Homo sapiens: one gene and its partners. The protein of the gene in region 2 interacts with the protein of the main gene of each other region in a pairwise test. Each region holds a gene or a part of one and is shown on either strand. Other genes may lie near its edges.

Region 1 (7,030 bases), on a different chromosome or scaffold from region 2:
AATTTCTTTTCTATATAACTCATGTCCTAGCACATACCAATCTTCCAGGACCCTTGACTAAGGCTAATCAGCAAGCTGACTTGTTGGTTTCCCCCTCACTGACTGATGCCCCAAATTTTGACTTACCTCAGTGCCAGGCAATTACCACATCAAAGAACTGGTGTTAAGCCTCAAAGGTTGGCACCTGACAAGATCTGGCAAATGGACATCACCCACGTTCCTACATTTGGCAAACTTTCTTATGTCCATGTAACCAGAGATACATATTCTCATTTTATATGGGCTACTTGCCAAACTGGTGAGACTGCAGCACATATAAAAAGACGTTTGGTTTCCTGTTTTGCTGTCATGGGAATTCCAAAAAAATTAAAAACAGACAATGGACAGGCTACTGTAGTGGAGCATTAAACACAGTACAAGTATCCCCTATAATTCTCAAGGGCAAGTGATTGTTGAGCGAGCCAATCGAACCTTAAAAATGCAATTACATAAACAGGAGATAGGGGGAGATAGGGAATATTCCACCCCTCATATGCAATTACAATTGGCTCTTGTTACCTTAAATTTTTTGAACATCTCCCAGGATCAGGTTACTACAGCAGCTGAGCAGCATTTAACAAGACAGAAGATAAATGTTCATGAAGGAAAACCTGTGTGGTGGAAGGACTTTAAAACAAAGACCTGGGAAAGAGGGAGAGTTATAACATGGGGAAGAGGGTTTGCTTGTATTTCCCCAGGAGAAAACCAGCTTCCAGTTTGGGTACCTACAAAACATCTTAAACTCTACCATGAGCAAAATTCCAAAGAAAAGGATTTTGGAACCAAGATCTCAACCCCCAAGCACACCTTGATGGCTCAAATGAACATTTCAGCTGACCACATGAAGACAAACAAAACCCGTCAAGTGAGCCCACTGACTTGGGACACATCAAGAGGCTGACCCAGCTTGCAGAAGAAAACCTGAAGGCACAACAAAAACCACTAAACTCGAGTAACCTCATCGTGGCTATGATTGCGGTAATTGCTATGACGGTAAGTCTCCCTGTGACTACAGCAGACCAAAATTATACCTATTGGGCATATGTCCCATTCCTGCCTTTAATTAGGTCTGTCACTTTGTTGGAACCCCCAGTTGAGGTTTATGTTAATAATAGTGTTTGGATGCCTGAGCCTACAGATACTCATGGGCCCTCTCACCCAGAGGAGGAAGGAATGTTAATAAATGTGTCCATGGGTTATCAGTCCCCCCTCTTTACATAGGGCCAGCTATCGGTTGCCTAAAAGGCTATCAACAACATTGGCTAGTTAAGACTTCAGGTCATAATCAAAGACCAGTATCCTATCATTTACTTTCTGGATGGAGCCTGGCTCATTCACAGAGTTCGGTCCAACTGGAACAATTTAAGACCAGAAAAGAGAGGTGTCAACAATCTCAACAATGGTCAAAGGATTTAGAAATATTGATTTGGAAAGATTGCATTGCTGATCATGGTGTGCTACTGCAAAATAATTCCTATGGAATCATCATTGATTGGTCCCCTAAGAGGACTTTTGCAGTTAATTGTACCAATCAGAATGATAGATGAAAGACAAAACTAAAACAGGATCTATACTATCAAAGAGATGACACTACTTACACTGAAAAGTGTGCTCATTTTCCCATAATTTGGACCAATTTTGGTACAGCCGGACCACATCCAAAAATAATTAATCCAATAATAGGCCCTGAACACCCTGAACTATGGAAGTTAATGATGGCCCAATCTCATATTCGAGTTTGGAAGGAAAATACTATCTTGATGGAGAAGGTGAGACACTTCAATTTGTGTATCAGTTTTCTTCCAACAGAACAGTATCCATTCAGAGTTGTGTCAAGCCTCCTTTCATGTTGATGGTCAGAAATATTCATATATGACCTAATTCTAAAATTATTAAATGTCAAAACTGTTGCCTTTTCACCCGTATTGATTCCACGTTTTGTGTGAAAACATCTGTGTTGCTGGTAAGGGCCAGAGAAGGAGTTTGGATACCAGTTTCCCTCAATAGACCATGGGAAGCCTCTCCTTACATTCATATCATCACAGAAATGTTAAGGGGAGTGCTGCTGGAATTGCTTTACATTCCTCTGTTCAAACTGCAGAATATGTAAATAATTGGCAAAATAATTCCTCAAAATTGTGGAATTCTCAGACTCAAACAGACCAAAGAAAATTGGCAAATCAATGATCTTAGACAGACTGTTAATATGGATGGGAGATTGTATAATGAGCTTAGAGCATCTATTGCAAATGTAATGTGATTGGAAATACTTCTGATTTCTGCGTAAATCCCCATTCACATAATGCTACTGAACATCATTGGGAAAAAGTTAGACATCATCTGGAAGGAAGGGATGGAAATTTAACATTGGATATAGCCAAATGAAAGGAACACATTTTTGAAGCATCTCAGGCGCATTTCACTCTCCTGCCTGGAATTGACATCCTAGCTGGAGCTGCTGATGGACTTTCAAATGTGAATCCTCTTAAATGGACCGTTGGAGGATCAACTATTGCAAATTTTACTTTAATGTGTATCGGTTTATGCTGTTTGCTTTTAGTCTGCAGATGGGGAAGATGCCTCTGGAGAGAGACCAGACACCATGAACAAGCCATGATAGCAACGGTGGTTTTAAAAAAGAAAAAATGGGTGGTGTTGAGGCTGGTCCCCAACAAAAACTATATCACTACTATTAATATAATTCAGAACAAAAACAATGCCATCATCTCAATTGATGCAAAAAAAGCATTAGGAACAATTCAACACCATTTCCAGATTAATACACGTAACAAACTAGGATAGAAGAAAACCTTACGACACTGATTTTGGAAAGGATTTACTGGATATAATACCAAAAGCACACGCAAGAAAAGCAAAACACTAAAGGATCTACATCCAACTTAAAGTTTTTGCACTTCAAAGGAATCGATCAAAAGAAGGAAAAGGCAAACCTACGGAATGGGAGAAGAGTTGCAAATCACATATCTGATAGGCATTAATAGATTATCAAGTAACTTCTACAACTCAACACCAAAAATAAATAACCCAATTAATGAATGGGCAAAGGAACTGAACAGATGTTATTCTAAAGAAGATGACAATATGGCCAACAAGCACATGATAAGATGCTCATCACCACCAAACATAACACAAATGCCAATCAACATTACAATGAGGTATCACCTCACACCCATTAGGATGGCCATCATCAATAAAAAAAAAAAAAGTGTTGGAGAGGATGCTGAGAAACTGGAACATTTGTGGACAGTTGGTGAGAATGTAAAATGGTATACCCATTACTGAGGTCAGTAAGGGGGTTCCTCAAAATATTAAAAACAGTACTACCATATAATCCAGCAATCCCACTTCTGGGCATGGGTGTGTGTAGATATTTTATACATCTATATACATACACACACGTATATATATTTGTGTGTGTATATACACACACACGTACATATTTGAAAATATACATCTGGCCAGGCACGGTGGCTATGCCTGTAATCCCAGCACTTTGGGAAGCTGAGGTGGGTGGATCACGAGGTCAACAGATTGAGACCATCCTGGCCAACATGGTGAAACCCCGTCTCTAATAAAAATACAAAATTAGCTGGGCATGGTGGCACGCACCTGTAGTACTTGGAAGGCTGAGGCAGGAGAATCACTTGAACCTAGGAGGCAGAGGTTGCAGTGAGCCAAGATCGCACCACTGCACTCCAGCCTGGTGACAGAGTAAGACTCCATCTCAAAAAAAAAAAAAAAAAAAAAAAATATATATATATATATATACACACACACACACACACACACACACACACACACACACATATCTACATATACACACTCATACCCAGAAGTGAGACTGCTGGATCATATGGTAGTATATATATGTGTGTGTGTGTGTGTGTGTGTGTGTGTGTGTGTGTGTACATACACATTAAAGACTTGAAAGCAGGCCCTCAAAGAGATATTTGCAAATCCCTGCTCATCACAGCATTATATACAATAGCCAAGAAGACAGAAAAACCAACATGCCTATCTACAGATGAATGGATAAAGAAAATGTGTTATACACATGCAATGGAATATTATTCAGCTTTATAAAAGGAGAAAATCCTGTCATATGCTACAACACGGATGAACCTTGAGGACATTACACTAGGGAAAATAAGACAGTCACAAAAGGACAAATACTATGTGATTCCACTCACGTGGGATACTAAAGTAGTCAAATGCATATAAACAACATAGAAAGATGGGTTGACAGAGGCTATAGTGAGGTCAGAAGGGATATAGTGTATTCTGGGTATACAGTTTCAGTTTTGCGAGATGAAAAACTTCTAGATATGTTGCACAGTAACGTGAACATACTTAACATTACTGAACTATAAACAGGCAAATAAACTTTACTAAAAGACATAACAAAGAGCATCATGGACCGGAAAACCCAATTCTTATTAGCAGATGTGGTGACACAAAGACCTCTCTGACTAGGAATCCACAGCCATTCAAACACAAAAGAAATATATGAGTTTTTAATGACTGTGCCCTGTGAAAGGAGAACCATCACAATTTTGAAAAGAAAAACAAAATGGAGGGGTTTTCCAAATATGTAAGAACCTCTTATGACAAACATCTGTAATTTTACAACAAATCAAATACTTATGATATACGCAAAAATTCAAATTAAACACAAATGTAAACAAAATTTTAAACAACAAAACTTTATTCCTAAATGAAACTTAGTACTTCATAATCATGCAAGGCCTTCCAAATCAAGATGAAACAAACAAAGGCACAACAAAAATCAGAAGGTATAAATGAAAGATTTGTCTTACAATTAAAAAATGTATAACCTGAAATAAAAGACATCAGGGCATATGAAAGAAATAAAAACCACAGAAATTAAAACACATACTAAAATACATGGAAAGAAAATTGAGCAAAGCATGAAAATTCATTTTGTATATACATGTCCCCAAAATAATAAAACCTATGTAGACAATAAATTGAAAAATGAAAATACAGAGGGTTGTCATTTTTCCCAGATTTTCAAAATATATATATATATAAACATAGTAGCAAGTTGTTGTTTTTTTTTTAATGAGGGCAAAATTTCACATGTTCTTGATAGGAGAGGTACCCCTGCAGCTGGGGATAACAGGGGAACCTTGAGAGATCTAAGAAAATAGGAAATGCCCCATCCTAGAAGAAGTATTACCCAAGTCTTACCATTTTCACCTGAAACATCTGTTTCACAAGAGTCTCTGCAGGAATACCACAATCTCCATAGGATGGATGTACTTAGAATGGTTTAAAGAATCTCTTGCTGTTAAACATTTACTACAAATGGAGTATAAAATCAGGCAGAAAAGATTTCCTCTTCCTAATCTCTTCTTCCAAATTTTATCAGGCAGTTGTGCACATTAAGACTTCCACGAGCAGCTTCCATAATCCAGTCTACAGAGCTGGCAGTGCCTCCAGACCTGGCCCTTAAACAATCCTTCAATTCCTGCTGCCCAAGAGCAGTGACACCATGGGGCCCACACCCCGTCTCCATCCATGTCTGGGTATAAGCCCTTCCCAATGGAGCCTCTTCACAAATTCCACAGCACCAGTCACTGTGAGATGGAATTTAAGTGACATCAGAGGGCCTGAGGGAAGACATGGGTGAGTGTGAGCAAACATCACAGGCAGCATGCTTCAGACTCAGAGAAGACTGACATCTCCAATGCCTGATGTGTACAGGGAAAAGCTCTCCTCAAATTGTGCTTTTCCTCTACTCTCACACCACAACAATCATCAACATAGAAGACCTCTGTGACTAAATGTATGTGGGTACTTTCCCCACACACCAAGCAGCAGACACTAGCTGGGTATCTTCCAGTTTAATTCCAACACTATCTACTGTGTACATTAAGACTGGAGACGTCAGATCCCACGAGTTGATGGCTCAGTCTCCAAGATTGCCTCCATACACACCAGTCGCAAGTCCAGGCCTTCAGAACTTATGACCACCCAGCTTCAAACTGGGGTTCACACGACCCCCTCTTCAATTAATTTGCTAGATTGGCTCACAGAACTCAGGGAAGCACTTACTTACCTTTACCAGTTTATTATAAAGGATACTGCAAAGGATACAGACGAAGAGGCACCTACAGCAAGGTATGGAGGAAGGAGTGCAGGGCTTCCATGACGCCCCTGGGCTTACTACCTCCAAGAACCTCCACGTGTTCAGCCATCCAGAAGCTCATCGAACTTTGCCCTTTTGGGTTTTTATGGAAGTTTCATGACATCAACATTCTTCCCCCCAGGGTACAGGGTGGGAAGCTCTCGGAGGAGGGTCTTAAGACCCACAATTAGAAAGGCTGGGGAGCATCAGAGTGAAAGGAAGGCAAAAGAAGGTCAGAGGCCTACCCCTGAGGCTTAACACATCCAACATTACAACAAAAGATTGTAACAAGGGCTATGGAGGTTATAAGCCAGGAACCGTCGATGGAAACCAATATATATCATAACACCACACATGGCATTTCAGAAAGGAAGGAGACACACAACAGTCCACTGAGAATATCACTGTACCTAAGAGGCATTCCTGACTCCTTTTCTTTCCTCTTCCTCCTCTTCTAGGCTTCTTCCTTAGGAGAGATGAAAGAGACTTTAGAAGCTAATCCTGAAAGAAAAAGAAAAAGAAAACTTTTTAAAAAACAAGTTAATCCTGAGTGTTCAAAATATGCTGTTTACTGCTCAAAATCAACACACCCCCTCCCTGTGCCACAACCACATACACAGGAAAGACCTCGCCCTGTGGAAAGATGGCCCTCTGCTGCCCACAGCACCAGGGATGATGCAGACAAGAAAGTCCTACAGGAAGAACAAGTCAGTTTTTGAGTTCTTCAAAGCTTACTCCCCACCTGGAGAAGCCCACATACATGCTGCAGCTGTGGGGTGCTGGGCTGGACTGAGCTCCCCTTCAGGGCACAGATCTGGC
Region 2 (5,770 bases):
ATTTGTTTTTGAGAACTTAGTAATGCATTTTTTCCCAAGACTAGTGTTCAGAATGATGTTTCCTAGTTTTTCTTCTAGGATTCTTATAGTTTGAGGCCTTACATTTAAATCTTTAATCCATCTTGAGTTAATTTTTCTATATGGTGAAATACAGAGGTTGTTTAATTCTTCTGCATATGGCTAGCCAGTTATCCCAGCACCATTTATTGAATCGGGAGTCCTTTCCCCAATGCTTATTTTTGTTAACTTTGTCAAAGATCAGGTGGCTGTAGGTGAGCAGCTTTATTTCCGGATTCTCTATTCTGTTCCATTGTATATGTCTGTTTTTGTACCAGTACCATGCTGTTTTGGTTACTGTAGCTTTACACTATAGTTTGAAATTGGGTAACGTGATACCTTCCACTTTGTTCTTTCTGCTTAGGATTGCATTGGCTCTTTGGGATCTTTTCTGGTTCCATATGAAATTTAGAATAGTTTTTTCAAATTCTGTTAAAAATGATGTTGGTAGTTTGATAGTGTTGATTCTGGAGCCATGTTGCAACAGATACTGTATACTTACATCATTTTATATATATCTTGATATATCCCTGTCGTAAACTCTTAGAATATAAATTATTGGATCAATTAGTTTTTGCATTGGTAATTTTGATGGATATTGCCATAAAGGTTGTACCAATTTACACTCCCATCAGCAATGTGTGAGACTATCTGTCTCTTCACTCCTTATTACATAATGTGTTATCAAAATATATGACCTTGCAAATCTGGTAACAGATAGGATTTTGGAATTGTTTTAATCTGCTTTTCTGTTATTGTGAATGCAACTAAGCAATATTTCATATGCTCAAATGCTATTCATATTCCCTCTTCCATGAATTATCTTTTCATCTCCATTGTCAATTTTTCTACTCGGTTGCTGGTCTTTCTCTTTGATTGATGGAAATCCTTTGTTAAATAGAAAATGAAAGCAAGCTTTGTCTATGAGTTACTTGTATTGTTCCCAGGTTTTCATTTGCCTTTGACACTGTATTCAAATAATAATAATAATAAAATGTTTACATTATAAATTTCATACCTACACACTGCAAATTTCTAAAAAATACAAAAAAGAGAAGAAAATAAAAATCATTTATCATGCCACAATAAATACATTTACTGCTAATACTTTAGTTTTCCTTTTAGTGTTTTTTCAAATATCTGCATGTAAATATTTATATTAATGTAGATAAGTATCCATAAAGATATATACATATATAAATATATAATAACATATATTAGTTACAAATTTCAAAATTCATGTTCTAAGATATGTTAAAAATATATAACTTTATTTTCCTCTGAGACTGTTTAAACTTATTTCAAACCCTCATTCCACCTTATGGGGGAAAAAAATAAAAGTCAGTTCTATGTAAACACAGAAATCATTCAGGATTTCTCCCTCCCAACCTTCATCTGGAGGAGGTGTCTGAGCTTTGAGGGGTGTTATGTTTGAATCAAATGGAAATTTCATAGCCTTCAAGAGGCTGGCAACAGGTTCATGGTGGGAATTTGCTGAAATATACATGGTTCTCTCTTACTCTTGGCCCTATCATCCCTCTCATGGCATCAACCAAGATATTAGAGTTCTTTTAGTCCACAAAAGAACTACATCCTCTACGTCTACATCCTCTCATTACCCCATCCAGGCGGCTAGATGGACCTGGTCATCTGACCACCCACTCTCCTGCATTGCAAAAGTCTACTTTGAATTGTATAAGCTAAGCATTGACCTAAGTCATTCTCTCTGCATTTCTACAGTAATAACCCTACCCTGGGGGCAGTAAATATAAAAAGTCCCTACTGCTGCCCAATTTGTGTGGAAAGACCAACAGTGAAATAAATTGCAGAAGAAAAATAACACCACCATGAGGACTTCAAGTCCTCATCATGACATGTACATTTACACAATTGAAATCATAGTGTATAATTTGAGTTGCACACTGAATGTTGTACTTAATCTGAGTAAATGCTCATGAGTATATGAATTGTTAAATATAAAAGTATGATAATTTATATTTTCAAGTTGTTCAAACAACCAAGTGTTCAATATGTATACATTTATATTTACTCATTTAATCAAAACAGCTCTACGACACTGCTACTATTATTATCCTAATTTCTGTTTTATAGATGAAGAAATTCAGGTACACAGGGGTTAAGTAATTATGGGAGCAGCGAGGGGGTGGGTGAGAGGCAGGAGAACTGAATGGTGAGACATTGGAAGATGAGGAAGACTTTCTACTCTTTTGTACCTTTTATCCTGGGAATGCTTGACCTCTTATTAAAATAAATAAATATGTAAAAGGATGTGTCGGCCGGGTGCAGTGGCTCACGCCTGTAATCCCAGCACTTCGGGAGGCCGAGGCGGGCAGATCACTTGAGGTCAGGAGATCCAGACCAGCCTGTGCGACATGGCGAAACCCTGTCTCTACTAAAAATACAGCAATTAGCTGGGCTTGTTGGTGCGTGCCTGTAATCCCAGGTACTTGGGAGGCTAAGTCAGGAGCATCGTTTGAGCCCAGGAGGCGGAAGTTGCCATGAGCCAAGATCAAGCTACTGCGCTCCAGCCTGGGCAGCAGAGTGAGACTCCATCTCAAAAAAACAAACAAACAAACAAAAAAGGACACGTCTGCCATAGACATTGCTGTATTATACTCACTCAGAGGTGCCCATCTGTGGATGTGGTATGGTGGAAGAAACAGTGGACCAGGAGGGAGAACATCTGGGCCATGGGTCCAATCTACCACGGATGTGTCATCTCTGGGCCTTGGTATCATCTTCTGTAAAACACAAGTGCTTGGCAGTGATGGTCATGATAGGATTAGATTATATCAGTGTTTCCTAATGTAACCCAAGTTACCTGAGAAAGTTTAAAATATATAGCTTCTCAAGCTCTCATAAGCACACATTCTGATTTATCATAAGGACTGGAATACAGTTTGGGAATCTGTATTTTTCAAAAGGCCCCCTTTTAGGCAATTCTGATATAAAACCCTGGACCAGATGATGTTTCAGGGGTTCCTCCCAGCTCTAAAATTCCATATCCTGTGAAGTATTGAGTATCATATCAGATCCAAGTAACTCATTCATCATTTACCCTCCCGACTCCCACCCTGTCCTTAGTTCTTCTAGCCCTTCTTAGAGGCTGTCTTACTTCTAGCCCATCTTACAAAGAAAGGGAAATGAAAAGGGAAGGACTAGATCCCTTGATCCAGATCCTTACTCCCATCCCTCCTTCCATTCCCACCCCACCCCTATCTTCTGTCCTCTACCCCTACTAGATGTTGTATTCCAGCTCCAGGGCTGCCATGGGCACTCCAAGAGGAGAACAAGGTACCAAAGTCCAAGAAAGAGACAGAAATTTTGACCCATCTCAAAATTTACACATGGACCTGAACCATCTGTAGATTTTAGACTCCTTGCAAAGGCATTTTATTCCTTGGGATGACACTCTGGGTATTTTGTATTCTAATTTCTCCTTCTGCCAGATGGTCTATAAGGTTCGAACTCTTAAAAAAAGTGCGTTACATTCCCATTTTAATGTAGCATTTTGGATATTTACTGATCTCCTTCCTGCTTTCTTCTTTCTTTTCTTCTTTCCTTTCTTCCTCCCCTTCTCCTCTTCTTCCTCCTCCTGCATCTCTTCCTTCCCCGGTCAAGGAAAGGCCTGGGGCTGGAGTGGGGGTGGGTAGAGGGTTCTGATCTCAGTTCTTCCCACCTATTTAGAGAGAAGTGCGAATATTCAGCTCACCTTGCCGCCGAGACAGACCATGCCTTACCAGCTTCTTGCAGCTTTACGATGAGTCTCTCTCGGTTTCACAGGGCAGTTATTACTCATGACTGATGCTCACCGGCCAAGCCTAAACGTGTGGCACACTCCCCATACCACACACAGACACAAACATTTGCCTGGCTCACATGAACCGGGATGAGGATGCCATTTCCACCTGGGAGGAGCCACGTGACCAGGCGTTCTCAGTAGCCTCCACTGGTGTCAGGGGGAACAGAGCATTCGGCTGTTGCCGGTCTGCCTTTCCAGGACTAGCATCCATGGAAGATGGGGTCCATCGCCAACCTGCGAAGATGTGGAAGGCAAGCCCCTCATTCCAGAGCCAGAAGCTGTGGCCGGCTTCCCCTTCCCATCTCCAACCTGGGCTAATGACAGCTGGCAGATGCTTGGCCATGATGACAGGTCTTTTCGAAGATGTATTTTTACCCTCTGGATAAACAGCAGTTGGCAGGAGTGGGGCGTTTTTATGAGTTGAGGTACTCAGGACTGGAAAATAAACAGCCAGTTAATGAGCCGGTCTTATGGAAACTTGCATAAATAATAACAAAGAAAACATCCCGTCCCTCATGCCTGGGTGAGGGGATATAAAAGCTGCCATCCAGATGGCTGGCCACCGTCAGTCGTGGGGAACTCCGGCTGCGTTACCGACCTGCGAGCTGACGGGCCCGGACCATGGGGTGCTGCCCGGGGGACTGCTTCACCTGCTGCACCCAGGAGCAAAACTGCTGTGAAGAGTGCTGCTGTCAGCCGGGCTGCTGTGGCTGCTGCGGCTCCTGCTGTGGCTGTGGGGGCTCTGGCTGCGGGGGCTCTGGCTGCGGGGGCAGCTGCTGCGGATCGTCTTGCTGTGGATCTGGCTGCGGAGGCTGTGGAGGCTGCGGAGGCTGCGGGGGTGGCTGCTGTGGATCCAGTTGCTGTGGGTCCAGTTGCTGCGGCTCCGGGTGCTGTGGGCCTGTGTGCTGCCAGCCCACACCTATATGCGACACAAAATGAAGACCTTTCCCTCCACCACTGATGCAGTCCCACCGAAAGCCTCCATCTGCTCCAGGGGGACAGCCCCTCGTGTCCAGAACCTTCCATACCCCCAAGACAGTGTCTTGTCTTTCTGTGATTTGTAGAGGAGGGCTTGTTCTCCAACACCTTCTCTGGTATTTCAAGGCACCGAGAACAAGAGCCATACTCTGATGAAACATTAAAACTCGGTCACAACTAAGTGATCCCAAGCTCAAGGGTGAATCCCCAATACTTTACTTATTCACATGAAGTTCAATGTCTTGTACTATAAGACATCCTCTTCTTCAAGGTGTCTTTGGGACTGATCCTCCGCCCTGGCTTTCTGCAGCTTTGAGATGCAAAAAAGGTCCATCTTCTTTGTGAGCCTCTTAATAAATTTGAGCATGCTGGCATAACCTAATTAGTTCTCTTGCCTCTTCCTTGACCTCCCTGCTGAGGACTGGGTTAGAAAAATTCACTCTGGCATCTGCCTTAGGGTTTTTGAATTGTGGTTTTTGGATCACCTGCGTCGGAATCACCTGGGAGCTTGTTAAAACTGGAGACTCTGAGGCCCTCCCTAAGACATACAGAATCAGAATCCACCAAAGTGTGGCCTGGGAATCTGTGTTTTTAACAAGAACCTTAGATAATTCTTATGCACTGAAGTTTGAGAACCATAGATCTAGACGGAAGCTTCCGTGTGCTGCATGAGATTCACTTGAAAAGCTTTTAAAAATATAGATCATTGGGTTTTATCACTGGAGATTTTACCCGTTAGCTCTAGGGCCTAGAGTCCCTAGGGACCTGCATTTTTAAAAGCTCCTGGGTGAATGCTGATGCTGGCCACATTTAATGGTGATTGAGGGGCATGGCTTTCTTCTGCACTACAGCTCTCCTAGGATGGTTCTGCAGGAGGGCTTCAGGCTTGATCAGAACTTTCTGGCAAAGTCG
Region 3 (7,030 bases), on a different chromosome or scaffold from region 2:
GGTATTTTGGGACTATAAAGAGGGCTTCAAGGCAGGAGTCCTGAGATAAAGGGTGAGGGTAGAAAAGAGTTTTGTTTACCCTGAAGCTGAGCCTGCCAGGCAGATTTGTGTGGGACTCTAGTTATTCTTGTAGGGGAGGGAAAAGCTTCTTTCTGCTACTGCATCTTGGGTTTTCTGTAAATTAGACTAACAAAAGACTGATGAACAAGAGAAAACAAACAAGTTTATTAGCATGTACATCCTGCTTACATATGGAGTACTCAAAGGGTTGGTTTGAACTTGAGCTTATACAGCATCTTAGCAAAGGTACAATAAAGGTTTAGAGAAGTAGCAAGTCAAAGGAGGGTTTTAGGCCTCCAAGGGCAGCAAACTGTGGGAAGGGAAATATATGGGGAATCTAATGGAAGATAAAGGGTTATTTGTGCAGGTTCATCTTGGAGCCAACTTTCTGTCTTCTTCATTGCCATAAAACTTCCCTGGGAGAGGGGATTTATGACAGTCCTTATTTCTTAGGAGTTTCTTCAGATAAATATCCAGGAAAGCTTCTTGCTGTACCTGTTGATTCTTATTTGCATCCAGCTCAAAATAATCAATATGCCCTATGGAAGTGGCATATTTTGATCAGAAACCTGTTCTGTATGCAGCTTCTCTCTAGCTATGGTTTTACACCCATGTGTGGTGTTGAGGAATATTTGTTGGTTTCTTCTGAGGGCTGAGGGAAAATCTGTTCCAGGTGTCTCCCCCAGCTGCCAGTGGTTTGCTGGCAATCCTCGGCATTCCTTGGCTTACAAAAGCGTTGCCTTGATCGCTGCCTCCAACTTCACGTGGTATTCTCATTGTGTGCGTGTCTGTCTCCGCATTTCTCCTTTTAAAAAGGACATCCAGTCATATTAGATTAGGGCCCACCCTAGTGACTTCAGTTAAATGTGATTACCTCTGTAAAGACTGTCTCCAAATAAGATCACATTCTGAGGTACTGGGAGTTGAGACTCCAACGTCTCTTTTTTTGGAGGGGGAGGGCACAATTCAAACCATAACAGGCTCTGCAGAAGCAGAGAAGGGATCTTTTTCACAGCTTGGTTGGGGAATATGGAGGAATCCATAACCAGCTCGTGGTTCAGGGATGTGGGTGATGCTGTCGCAGCCCAGGACCCTGGACAGAGCTGATCCATGCACACTGACAGATTTGGCGTGGGCAATGTGTGCTGGTGTCATTTGCACATGGATTTTTGTTGAAGGGAACAAAATCTAGTCAAACCAGTTCAACGAAAATGTGTGTGGTGTGTATCTGTGGGAGAGCAGGGAGAAGTGGTGTATTTTAGGGTCAGAGGAATCACATGGAAATCCAGGAAACAGGAGGAGCCAGGCCTCGGAAAGGGCTTGAACTGAGGCAACCCTGGAAACCTCTGCCTCTCCTCTCATGGCTTCTCAGCTTCTCTGAGCATGCCAACTGTGGTCTCCTTTCTCTCCCCACCACCTCCCTCTGATTGCATTGTTCCTTCGTAACTGATACTCTAATACCACAGTGGTGGCCCCAGCATGCAACCCACCCATCTCTGCACAACCTTGCAGTTCAAGCATCCACTGAATCTTCTCTGTGTTTATTTGTTCAAAGTCCCAACAGAAGAGAGTGGTAGCTTGATTTCCCTTTGTAAGAAAGACAACCCAAGTCAGAGTTCATTGCCAGCCTAATAATGGGCCTCACTCTGGTGAGGGTGCTGCCCCTGGCAGGTCTAATTCTCTGTGACTATGAGGTGGGGTCACATGGCTTGCTACTCCTCTAGCAGGAGCCATGGGTGGGGACTGATTCTTTGAGTTGGAAGCATGAGTGGAAACTGCATCCCAAACATACCCAGGAGCAGAACTTCACTACAGAGGGACCAATTATACTGCTTTTATTGCCAAATGCAACAGTTGAAAGGATAGAGAGCATCACTCACTCATTAACTTGTCCATTTGTTCACTCATTCATTCTTCATTAACTTCTTAAATATTTGTTGGGTGTGTGTGCCAGGCATTATGCTAGTCACTGAGATTACTAGAATTAGGCCAATATGGCCCCTATCCTTCTGGAGCCTGTAGTCTAATAGGGAAGATGAAAAAGAATTTCATGAATAAATCAGTAACCATATAATTACAAATTGTGATATGTGCTGTTTTAATATGAGTGAGAATATTAGGAATGGTCTTGAATTAGATGATGTGAGAAGGCCTCTCAGGAGCAATGGGGAAAAGAATCCCAAAGCCAATGCTTGGAGGGATATTAATACATGCATCTTTGCTACAGTGGCTGACTGTACCTTTGGATTGGTCCCCAGAAATTAGTCTGGTGAAACAAAAATACATGGATTAGACATCTAATTCCTTCCTGCCACCAATTCTTAGGTGCCGGGGCTTCCTACTTTCAGATGCTTCAGCAATTTGGGTCTGTTTAGGAGTGCCTGCTGGGCTGGCTGTTTGAGTTCATGTAAGGAGATTGTCCTAATCCGTAGTTATATGGGCACCTCATTAGGCAGTGGACATCTTGCCCCTGACCATAATGTTTGCATTTGAATGAGCCTTGAAGACAGATTGTGTTTTCTAAGCTCTGCTTCCTCCTGAGATCAGCATCCTATTGCTGCTGTCTTTTGAGAGATGAAATGTAGTCACCATACTGCTCCGCTAATTTCTGGACCTTTGGATTTGTTTTTTTTTTCAATAGTCAATTACACATGGGTGCCACAGTCTGTGCTCTGCAGCATATGTTCTGCAAATGGGGAATGACAGTGCTTATCACCACGCAACTCCAGAGGAGTCTGGGCGGAGACACCACAAATGTTCCCTTTAATAGGCACTTTCTCCTTTCTTCCCCCTTCCCTTAATTGGTGTGAATTGAAAAACAGTCAGGCTGAGTTTGTGAGCTGCTTAAGTCTTATTCTGTTGTTAGTTCTCCTTGGAGAAAGTCATTCCTTGTCTCCCTGCACCCCACCAGGTCAGCTTCTGCTTTGGTTTAAAGTCATGGTGGCAGAAACTGAGGCTGGAGAAAGTATGACCGCCAATGTGGACACTTTCCAGAGCCCTCTCCGTTCATCACTCTAGGGCAGTGGTCTGCAACCTTTTCAGCACCAGGGCTGGTTTGGTGGAAGACAATTTTTCCACAGACTGATGGGGAGGTGGGGCGGGGCGGGAGGGATGGTTTCGGGATGAAGCTGTTCCACTTCAGATCATGAGGCATTAATTAGATTCTCATAAGGAGCATACAACCCAGATCCCTCGCGTGTGCAGGTCACAATAGGGTTCCTGCTCCTGTGAGAATCGAATGCCCCTGCTGATCTGACAGGAGGCAGAGCTCAGGCTAATGCTGGATTGCCTGCTGCTCACCTCCTGCTCTGCAGCCCGGTTCCTAACAGGCCACCAACCAGTACCGGTCGGTGGCCTGGGGAGTTGGGGACCCCTGTTCTAGGGCACTCAGTTCCCCTGACTGCACACGGCCCCTTGGATCACAGCCTAAGCTAAGATGATGGTTGGAGACATAGGTGGACAGTATGACGTGCACACTGTCACGGCACAGGGTCTGAATGGGGTAATAGGCATTTGTTTGGTTGAATTAAATGGTGCAATGCCAGGCCTAGAGACACCCTGACTGACATGGTGGGCTGCAGCAGCAGGGCCATCCCAGTGTCAGCTGAACCTTGAGGGTTTGCCTGGAAAGTGGGTTTTTGCTGCTGGCTTCCCTGGCGGTGGCAGTCAGGGAAGGACCCTTCTAAGTAGAACGAATAGCCAATATAAAGAGGAGGAAGCCTCTCTGATGTGTGGGAGGCCAGTGTGGCTGCAGTAGAGTAAGCAAGATGCAAAGCAGTAAGGAATGGATTCTCTGAGAGAGGTCATAGGGAGCAGTGCCTCGTAGGTATTGTGAGGTCCTTGGCTTTTACTCTGAATGGGGGAGGGGGACATTGCAGGATTTGGAGTAGAATTGTAGGACGACCTGTCTTAAGTTTTAAGAGGATTGAACATAGCAGTTTTATGGTGCATTAATCAGGGGGAATTAAATGTGGAAGGAGAGGGACCAGTTAGGCAGCAACAGTGATAACTCAGGCCAAGAGATGGCGGTGGCTTGCAGCAGGAGGGAGCAGTGGAGACAGTGAGATATGCTTAGATTCGGGATGTATGTGTTGTAGGTCAAGCAAATGGGGTTTTCCTCTTGGAATGGATGTGGGTATGAGAAGGAGAGAGGAGCCAGTGGTGACTCCGAGGTTTCTGGTCTGAATAGCTAGAAGAATGAGGGCTGCATCGAGGCCTTCCCTAGTGAAAACCTTGATCTAAGTAGTCATCGACATTGGCATAAATCATGCCATTGCCTTACCTTTTGTACCACGGTACTTTTTTTTTTTTTTTTAATTTTACTGACAGTTCTGGGATACAAGTGCAGAACATGCAGGTTTGTTACGTAGGTATACATGTGCCATGGTGGTTTGCTGCACCTATCTTCCCGTCATCTAGGTTTTAAGCCCCATATGCATTAGCTATTTGTCCTAATGCTCTCCCTTCCTTGCAACTCCCCCACCCCCTGACAGGCCCCAGTGTGTGATGTTTCTCTCCCCGTGGCCATATGTTCTCATTGTTCAACTCCCACTTATGAGTGAGAACAGGCAGTGTTTGGTTTTCTGTTCCTGTGTTAGTTTGCTGAGAATGATGGCTTCCAGCTTTATCCCTGTCCCTGCAAAGGACATGATCTCATTTCTTTTTATGGCTGCATAGTATTCCATGGTATATATGTTGACATTTTCTTTATCCAATCTATCATTGATGGGCATTTGGGTTGGTTCCAAGTGTTTGTTGTTGTAAATAGTGCTGCGATAAACATACGTGTGCATATGTCTTTATAGTAGAATGATTTCTATTCCTTTGGGTATATACCTAGTAATGGGATTGCTGGGCCAAATGGTATTTCTCGTTCTAGATCCTTGAGGAATTGTTTTCCACAATAGTTGAACTAATTTACATTCCCACCAACAGTGTAAAAGTATTCTTATTTCTCCACAGCCTCACCAGCATCTATAGTTTCTTGACTTTTTAGTAATCGCCATTCTGACTGGCATGAGATGGTATCTCATTGTGCATTTCTCAGATGATCAGTGGTGTTGAGCGTTTTTTCATGTTTGTTGGCCACATAAATGTCTTCTTTCTAGAAGTGTCTGTTTATATCCTTTGTCCACATTTTGATGGGGTTGTTTGTTTCTTGTAAATTTGTTTAAGTTTCTTATAGATTCTGGATATTAGCCCTTTGTCAGATGAGTAGATTGCAAAAATTTTCTCCCATTCTGTAGGTTGCCTGTTCACTTTGATGATAGTTTCTTTTGCTGTGCAGAAACTCTTCAGTTTAATTAGATCCCATTTGTTAATTTTGGTTTTTGCTGCAATTGCTTTTGGTGTTTTTGTCATGAAGTCTTTGCCCATGCATATGTCCTGATTGGTATTGCCTAGGTTTTCTTCTAGGGTTTTAAATTTTTATTTATTTATTTTTTTGAGACAGAGTCTCACTCTGTCTCCCTGGCTGGAGTGCAGCGGAGCAATCTCGGCTCACTGCAAGCTCCACCTCCTGGGTTCACGCCATTCTCCTGCCTCAGCCTCCCGAGTAGCTGGGACTACACAGGAGCCCACCACCACGCCCGGCTAATTTTTTGTATTTTTAGTAGAGACGGGGTTTCACCGTGTTAGCCAGGAAGGTCTCGATCTCCTGACCTCATGATCCGCCCATCTCAGCCTCCCAAAGTGCTGGGATTACAGGCATGAGCCACCACGCCCAGCCTCTTCTAGGGTTTTTATGGTTTGGGATTTTACATTTAAGTTTGTAATCCATCTTGAGTTAATTTTCGTGTAAGATATAAGGAAGGGGTCCAGTTTCAGTTTTCCACATATGGCTGGCCAGTTTTCCCAGCACCATTTATTAAATAGGAGATCCTTATTCCATTGCTTCTTTTTGTCAGGTTTGTCGAAGATCAGGTGGTTGTAGATGCGTGGTGTTATTTCTGAGGTCTCTGTTCTGTTCCATTGGTCTATATATCTGTTTGAGTACCAGTCCCATAGCATGGTACATTTACAAAGCCCTTGTGTCATCATGTTTAGCCCTCACAGACACCCTAAGAAAAATAACTTCTGTCTTCATTTTGCAGGTGAGGAAACTGAGGCATAGATCTTTGAGGTCTCTCTGAAAATTCCCTCTATTTTATGGAAGTTGCCCCTTTTCACCTTGTCTTTTAGTTAGGTAACTGCATGTCATCTTCCCCACTAGCTGGTACATTGTTGGAGGGCAGAGCTGTATGGAGGGTTAACTTTGAGTCCATTCAGCATCACTGCAATAGCAGGAACGTGGTAGGTCAGAGAAACTAATCATTATTGTAGCATAGGTCCCATTGAGAATCCTGTGACCGCTAGAAACACACTTCTTCCCATTAAAATATGCACATGTGCAGTTCTGCATTGTAATGTCGCCAAAACTCATTCATGGAAGCCAGTTAAGGTCCCTGGCAAAATGTGCTTATTTTACTCTGTAACTATTTAGTAAACAAATACAATAGGTATAGCCAAAGCATTCTGCCTAAGGTTTGAATTCTTGAAGCCAGGAGCTTGTCAAGAGTCGGAAAACAATTCTTACAGTCTGTTCAGATCAATTAAGTTCAGTAAGCCTGTCCTGAGTGATGGTCCTTAGCTGGGTGTTTGGGCCCAGAGATGAATAAAACAGTTCGGGAAGCTTACAGTCCAGTCATAACCTCTCTTTCTGTATGAGGCAGCAGAGAGCACCATTATTAGTACTAATGTCCCCATTGGACAGGTTGGGGGCAGTGCCCCCTTTGCTTCATGTTACTAGAGCTGCCATCATCCCCTTCATACTTCCTTGCAGCCTCATGTTGAATGATCTGGGCACCTCTGTAGAATGCAAGCTCTATGATGGCAGGGCCATGTCTGTTGTTCTTCTTCAGCACAGAGCAGGTGCTCAGCGGCTGCTGATTGGATGGATGAAGAGGTGGATTCATAGGTGGATGGATAGTTG
Region 4 (6,990 bases), on a different chromosome or scaffold from region 2:
CTCCAGTGGACGAGCAATGAAAAGGTGACGGTGCGTTTCAAGCAAAAGAGGCTAGGCCAGGCCTAGTGACTCATGTCTGTGATCCCAGCCAGCACTTTGGGAGGCTGAGGTGGGAGAATCACTTGAGCCCAGTAGGTCAACACTGTGACCAGCCTGGGCAACATCATGAGACCATGGCTCTTCAAAAAATTAAAAATTAAAAAATTAGCGAGGTATGCTGGCTCACGCCTGTAATCCCAGCACTTTGGGAGGCCGAGGTGGGTGGATCACTGGAGGTCAGCAGTTTGAGACCAGCCAGGCCAACATGATGAAACCCTGTCTCTACTAAAAATACAAAAATTGGCCAAGTGTGGTGGTGTGCATCTGTAATCCCAGCTAATTGGGAGGCTGAGGCAGGAGAACCACTTGAACCCGGCAGGTGGAGTTTGCAGTGAGCCGAGATGGCACCAATGCATTCCAGCCTGGGTGACAGAGTGAGACTCCATCTCAAAAAATAAAATTAAAAATTAGCCTGCTGTGGTAGTGCACACCTGTGGTCCAGCTACTCGGCTGGCTGAGGCAGGAGGGTCACTTGAGCCCAGGAGTTTGAGGCTGCAGTGAGTCAAGATCGCATCGCCAGCTGGGCATGGTGGCTCACATCTGTAATCCCAGCACTTTGGGAGGCCGATCACTTTGGGTCAGGAGTTTGAGACCAGCCTGGCCAACATGGTGAAAACTCGTCTCTACTAAAAATGCAAAAATGAGCTGAGCATGGTGGCGTGCACCTGGAATCCCAGCTACTCAGGAGGCTGAGGCAGGAGAATCACTTGAACCCGGGAGGCGGAGGTTGCAGTGGGCCAAGATTGCACCACTGCATTCCAGCCTTGGCAACAGAGTGAGACTCCATCTCAAAAAAAAAAAAAAAAAAAATCACATCAGCCTGGGTAACACAGCAAGACCCTATCTCAAAAAAATAAAAATAGAAAGAGGATAGGACCAGACTGGCACAGAGTAGGGATCACACTGGCTGCTGGGGGCACAGGCTGGGAGGAGTGGAAACAGGTGCCAGGACAGAAGCTGAGGGCAAGTAGGATAGGCAGGTCTCCTGTGGCCCCTCTGCTGCCCTTATGAGAGGTGGGAAACAGGCCTGGGGCCACCTCATGGCATCAGAGGCTCACCTGTGCGCTGAGCCAACTGCCTGAGGAGGCCTGGTGCTCAGCCTCCCTCACCCCCGTTCCATCGTCCCAGCCAGCCAGCCACTGACTCAGGAGCTGAGGCCGAGTGGGCAGGAAGTCAGGGAGGGCAGGGCTGGCTCCTCTGACAGGTCAGGCCAGTCTTCCTTGCCTCAGGCAGAGCCATCTGGACAACTCTGCCAGGCAGGGGCATCCTGTCTGCCGTGGCACGGGCCAAGAAATGGGGTCATGGCACCCAGCCCCAAAGGTTGGCCAAGTGTTGGCATGGGCCTGACCCCAGGCTGTGTGAAGAGAGCCAAGCTGGGTCTGGGTCTGGAACATGGTACATGAGCCCCAGCCAGGCAGAGGGCCAGAGGTGGTAAGAGGTATTGCCGGCACCTCTCCTGCTGGAATCTGGGCCTGCCACTGGGAAGGGCTCTGACCCTGACCCAGGTCCAGGGGTCTGTCCCAGGCATAAAGTTATAGAAGGTCTAAAGCCCAGATCTGCCCCCGCCCCTCAGCCAGGTCCCAGGAGCTAGAAGACAACCTCAGTACCAACTGGGAGGCACGAGCAGTTTCAGCCTCCGGATAAGCCCCGCCAGCTCTCCCAGGACTCCTGTGATTAGCACCGAGGGGAAGCACCAAGGGTGTGCTTGCTACAAGGAGCAGCTGCAAGGCTCCTCCTCTGTCCTCCCCTCCAGCCCATCCCTCCCGCTCAGGCCCCTTCCCACCAACCCAGACATTCTGCCATTGCGCCAGTTCAAAGCAGGCTGGGTCCCTTGGATCTGTCCCTATCACCCAGGCTGGAGAGTTAGTTAGGATCCTTTGACCCCCCTCCACCCCCACAGCCCCTAGCTCCCCCGCTGTGTGCAGACTGCTGGTAACCAGGTTCTAAAGGCGGGTGGCACCTTGAAACCATACAAGGCAATGTTGGATAAACTGAGAGGGGTCTCCTAAAAGCTTCCCTTGAGCCTCTGGGTAAGTGGGGACCTGTGTAAGGCCAGGGCACAGGATTGGGGCAGGGGGTGAACACCAGGCAGATGGGGTCTCTCCGTCTACAAGAACCTGCCACAGAGGTGAGAAGCTTCAAGGACATCAGGAGGTCCTGTTCCTTGAGGAAAGCCAGGCTGGAGGCTCTTGGAGCCCTCTTTACCCCTGACCCTGGGCATCTGTGGATGCTTCTGAGGGCTTCAGAGGACACAGGGCCAAGGGAAGAGGCAGGGAAACAGTCCGACAAGAGGCTGCACAGCACTGATTGGAAACTCAGATGGTTCTGGGGCCGGGCAGGAAACTCAAGTGAGTGGACAGCTTGGCAGGAGGCAGCAGGGAGTGGTGGGGACTGGGGTGACCCATGAGCCCACATTTTGGCAGAGGGAGCAACCGCCACTCAGCCCCAGCTGAGAGTTCCTGTTCAATGCAAGCTGGGAAGCCCCATTTTAATATGAAACCACCTGATTTTTCAATGTTAGCAGTGCCTTCAAAGTTGTAAAAACTCCCATAAAGCCTGCACTAAATGCACCCAAAGGCCAGCCCCAACCCAGGAACAGAGGTCCGCAAGCCATGCCCTAATCCATGTAGACCGAGAAACGTATGGGTTGTGGAGCCCTGCCAGCCCTGGAAAGGGGCCCTGTGGGGAGAGGGCCCTGTGGACGGGAGGTCCAGAAGGTGACTGTCCCAGCCAGGCCCTGCTTAGCCCTTGACGGCTAGACACAGAGGCCATCCTGCCTTCTGGAGATAACTGAGTCCTCCAGAGACTAGGAAACCCTCCAGCTGGTGTGGCCCAGCCTCCCAGGGATAAGCCTTCAGGCCCCCCAAAGACTAGAGCTAGCCCAGCCAAGGGCCTTGGCTACAGGCCGGGCTGGAGGGGGTGTGGGTGTCCCAAGGCTCTCCGGAAGTCAGGAGCTGAGCTGGGCCCCCAAAGGCTCTGAGGCATGACTGACCACAAACGCGGAGGGGGAGGAGGGCAGAGTGTTTTCCTGGAATCCTCCAAGGCAGGGGATTTTTCTGGACTAGTCCGGCCCCTGGCACCCGCCCCTCCTGCCCAATCAAGGGCCACTGTCAACTGCAGCCCAGGCCCCACCCACCGACGGTGACCACCCCTATGCCTCCACAGCTCAGGCTTGAAGCTGCCAGTAACTGTGGGGCCGTGGGCAGACCACCACTGCCCTCCCTGACACAGCCCCTTCATCTCATAATATGGTGGGGAAGAGAGTCCAGGGCTGCTCACAACTCTTAAGGCTGTCGTGGCTAAGAGGACCCTGAGCTCAGATTTGGCATTGGAGTTTATACTTAGGAGGCTCTTGAAAGGGCTTTGTGTGGGCTGCCAGGAGTTTTTTGAAATTGGGATTAGCTACCAACAATAACACATTGAGAGATTTCACCTAAAAATCTGGATTTCCAGTTTCTCTTCAAAAATCCAAAGCTCTAGCTGGCCCGGGCTGGTCATGAGGACTCAGCCCTTACCAGCCCCACTCCCGCCATCCTGCCTCTCCAGGGCCGCAGAGGCCCTGGGGTGGACTTCTGGCATTTGTCACCTGCCTGGTGCCTCATAGGCATCTGGGCTGTGACGCTTAGGATTCCTAAATAGTCTCTCGCTTTTTACACAAAAAGCAGAAACCTGCCCAGTGTCATCCGGCAAACCCACGACGGGCAAGGTCTCCCCGCGCAGGTCAGGTGGCCGCAGGGTGAGGGCCAGGGCAACCCGGCCCACGAGCCCCTCGGTGGGGAAGGGGCGTGTCTCCACGCGGCTCCGCCCCGGCCAATGGGGAGAGGCCCCGCCCCTGCCGCGGCGGGCCCGCCCCCCGGGACTCTTAAGGCGCGACCTGCCTCCAGCGAGCCGACTCCGGAGCCCGAGCCCGGGGCGGGTGGACGCGGACTCGAACGCAGTTGCTTCGGGACCCAGGACCCCCTCGGGCCCGACCCGCCAGGAAAGACTGAGGCCGCGGCCTGCCCCGCCCGGCTCCCTGCGCCGCCGCCGCCTCCCGGTGAGTTTCTGTGGGGCTGGGGGGCTGCGGGCGGGGAAGGGGGCGCCACGGCCAGGCTGTGCACACGCGCGGGGACCGCCGCCGCGCGCACACACGCACTCTCGGGCGGGACCGCGGCCCCAGCCCCACACGGTCACCTGGGCCGCCCGGCGGGCAGGCCCTGTACGCTCCCTCCCCCGCCGTCCTGGGGCGCCGACAGCCCCGCGGCCGGCCAGGGTGCGCGCCTGAGTGTGCGGTGAGCCCGCGAGGCTGCAAGCAGACAAAATAAACACCCCGTCCCATGCTTCCTCCTCCCACGGCTGGGCCTCCGGCATGACCAGTTTTATGAATCAAACCCCTTTGAGGGGGATAGCCAAGCCACAGGCTTGGGTCACTTTTCCCTCCTGGGGTCCGGCAGTAGGTGCTGCTGTGCAGAAGGGCTGCCCGGGGTCCTCTGGACCCTTGTCACTCAAAGCACAGCTGGGGGCTACAGATATGCAGCCCTAGGGAGGGGCGGGGAGTGGCTGGTGGGCGTCCGATGCCCATCCCTCCAGGTGGGGGATGGACCTGTACTGGCCAGGGCCCTTAGAGCTTCGGGTATCAGGCAGGGTGCCGGGTCTCTGCCTCTGCCAGGGAAGGGGCTTTGCTTGGGCTGCAAACCCAGTGGCCTGGAGCCAGCCTAGTCCTTTGTGTCCCTGGGCTGGCAGTGCTGGGGCCTGAGGACTGCTGAGGTCCCCTGTGGTCACTGGCAGGCCAGCCGATTGGTGCCAACCATTCTGCCTCTCCCCCATTCGTTAACGATTGCCACACCAGGGTCACTGACCGCCTCCCCTGCTGTGGCCCAGGGGTGGAGTGTGCAGGGTGGAAGGAAGAGGTCCTGGGGGTCTAGGTGTCCCCATGCCTGCCTTTTGCACCAAGGACAGGTGAGGCTCTGGAGAGAGGCAGCGGGACCTAGAGCCCCCTTCCCCAGGCTGAGAGCCTCCAGGGCTGGGGATTGGATAAAATCTCCAAGGTCCCTTCACACTAGACTGTACTTTGGGTGTTGAGGGCATAGAGGGGTGGCCGGGCTGGGACCTTCCAAGCAGGGTCCATTAGGGCCAGTCCAGGGGGCAGCAAAGTCCAGGATGGGCCCAGCTATTGACAAAAACCCAACAGAGCTGGGGCAGGCGGGTGGGGGATGGGGAGCAGTCCCCTGAGTTTACTCTCTTCTCCCAGGGGAGTTGGCCTGGAGCTTCTGTAAACAGAGTGTCAGAGGCAGGAAGAGGCTCTGGTGATGAGCAGCCCAGCTGGATCCCCTCCAGACCATTATCTAGCCTCCCCTGGGCCTGGGGAGGGAGGATGCGCACACACATGCCAGCCTGGGGGCCGGGCACTGCCTGTCCCCACCCCGCCCCTGTCTCCTGCACGTTGGAACAGCTGTCCTGCTACCTGTGGGTCCGGAGGGTCAGATGGGGATGGGGCTGGGGGCTGGGGTCCCAGGGCATTTGTCCAGATGGCACCTCTCTCTCCATATTCTGGGAATGGGAGAATGGGATTCAGCATAAGGAGCCTCTCAGACACTGCCCAGACCTGTGCTTACCCGAGGAAGGCCCCTCTGGCACGCAGCCCAGGGGCCAGGGAGATGGCAAGGGAGATGCCCCGGGCAGGAGATGGGTCCGCGGCTCCTAGCTCCCATTACTGTCACCCCCACTGACAGCCCCGGGGGAGCTGGGACAAGTCCCAAGTACAGAAAATTAAGTCCTTGCCTGGGCTTATAAGTGGGTCCCAACACAACACTGGGCAGCCTCTGGGAACAAGAAAGCAGGGCCCTGCTGAGCCCAGGAGGGAGCTCCCACCTCAGCAGGCCAGACAGCCAGTCCTGCCAGTGAGCAGAGGTGTGTAGAGGGGAGGCTGCCCACAGGGATGGCTATCCCTGACCACTGGCCAGCCCTGAGCTCATGGGAGGGCAGCAAGGCCACCTAACTCTGTTAGTGACCTCTCCTGGACCCCCCATCAGCTGCCCTTAGAGTCCCCTCCCTGGGCTGGGGAGCCCAAGGCTCTGTGCTGCCAAGAAAACCAGCTCCCCTCACTGCTGTGGAATTTGCGTGAGTTCTTGGAGAAGGGGGAGGGTGCACGTGTGTGTGTGTGTGTGTGTCTGCAGGAGCACTGCCCAGTGGGCGTGTGTCTGGCGTGGGCGTGTCTGTGTGCGCGTGACTGGAGCAGGGCTGTGTATTTGGGGGTGGGTGGGGGTGTTTGGGGGAGCCTGCTTGCACCAGGAGGGGCAGGGCCTCAGCCTCCTTCCTTTTATCGGTTTCCACATTCCAGAGTCAGCCGGATCGCTTTCCCTCCGCGCTGGGCCGCCGGCCTCCCCCGCTTTTCCTCATTCCAGCCTCCCTGGGTGTGAGGAGGCTGGAGGAGGCTCCCTCAGGCCACCTCGGTTTTGGGCAGGGGGTGGGGGCAGGCGAGGGGCCAGTTATTCTTCAGGGTTCGGGACGGCCCCCACCAGACTCTTCGTGGGGAATGCAATAAGGTTCTGACATTCCTCAGGGGCTGCCTGAGAGATTTAATTAAGGAGGGAGGAGGGAGCCGGCCTACACCGGGAAGGGGCTGGGGCGGCCGCTGGGGCCCCTGCTGGCCCTGGGCCCCGAGCCCGGCTGGGCATTGAGAGCAGTGCGGGGGCAGGGTTGTGGTTCAGTGGCCAGGTCCTGTTCTGCCTCCCTGAATCCATCCCGCCTGCCCATTGATCAGCTCACAGACCCCAGGGGCGCCATTTCTGCCACGGGTTGGCCAAGAACCCTGGGTGATTGTGGGGGGTTCGGCATGGGGAGCTTGAGAAGGGCAAGACCCCTTCCAGGGCCACTTCCTTCTCAGACCCCCAGGCCCAGGAAGCTTAGGGC

The links.
Region 1: the proteins of KRTAP17-1 (region 2) and ZNF578 interact in binary tests that used the Homo sapiens proteins (3 or more experiments, as listed by UniProt).
Region 3: the proteins of KRTAP17-1 (region 2) and DOCK2 interact in binary tests that used the Homo sapiens proteins (3 or more experiments, as listed by UniProt).
Region 4: the proteins of KRTAP17-1 (region 2) and VASN interact in binary tests that used the Homo sapiens proteins (3 or more experiments, as listed by UniProt).

What each region holds. Positions count from the first base shown.
Region 1 is NC_000019.10:52,456,550-52,463,579, reverse strand, and holds part of ZNF578 (zinc finger protein 578), read right to left. Parts: intron 6,904-7,030; exon of another isoform or gene 6,844-6,903; intron 6,713-6,843; 5' UTR 6,622-6,712; intron 1-6,621. UniProt on the Homo sapiens protein: May be involved in transcriptional regulation.
Region 2 is NC_000017.11:41,314,382-41,320,151, reverse strand, and holds KRTAP17-1 (keratin-associated protein 17-1), read left to right. Parts: upstream 1-4,441; 5' UTR 4,442-4,501; coding exon 4,502-4,819; 3' UTR 4,820-5,240; downstream 5,241-5,770. UniProt on the Homo sapiens protein: In the hair cortex, hair keratin intermediate filaments are embedded in an interfilamentous matrix, consisting of hair keratin-associated proteins (KRTAP), which are essential for the formation of a rigid and resistant hair shaft through their extensive disulfide bond cross-linking with abundant cysteine residues of hair keratins.
Region 3 is NC_000005.10:169,640,261-169,647,290, forward strand, and holds part of DOCK2 (dedicator of cytokinesis protein 2), read left to right. Parts: intron 1-7,030. UniProt on the Homo sapiens protein: Involved in cytoskeletal rearrangements required for lymphocyte migration in response of chemokines. Activates RAC1 and RAC2, but not CDC42, by functioning as a guanine nucleotide exchange factor (GEF), which exchanges bound GDP for free GTP.
Region 4 is NC_000016.10:4,367,859-4,374,848, forward strand, and holds the start of VASN (vasorin precursor), read left to right. Parts: upstream 1-3,989; 5' UTR 3,990-4,135; intron 4,136-6,990. UniProt on the Homo sapiens protein: May act as an inhibitor of TGF-beta signaling.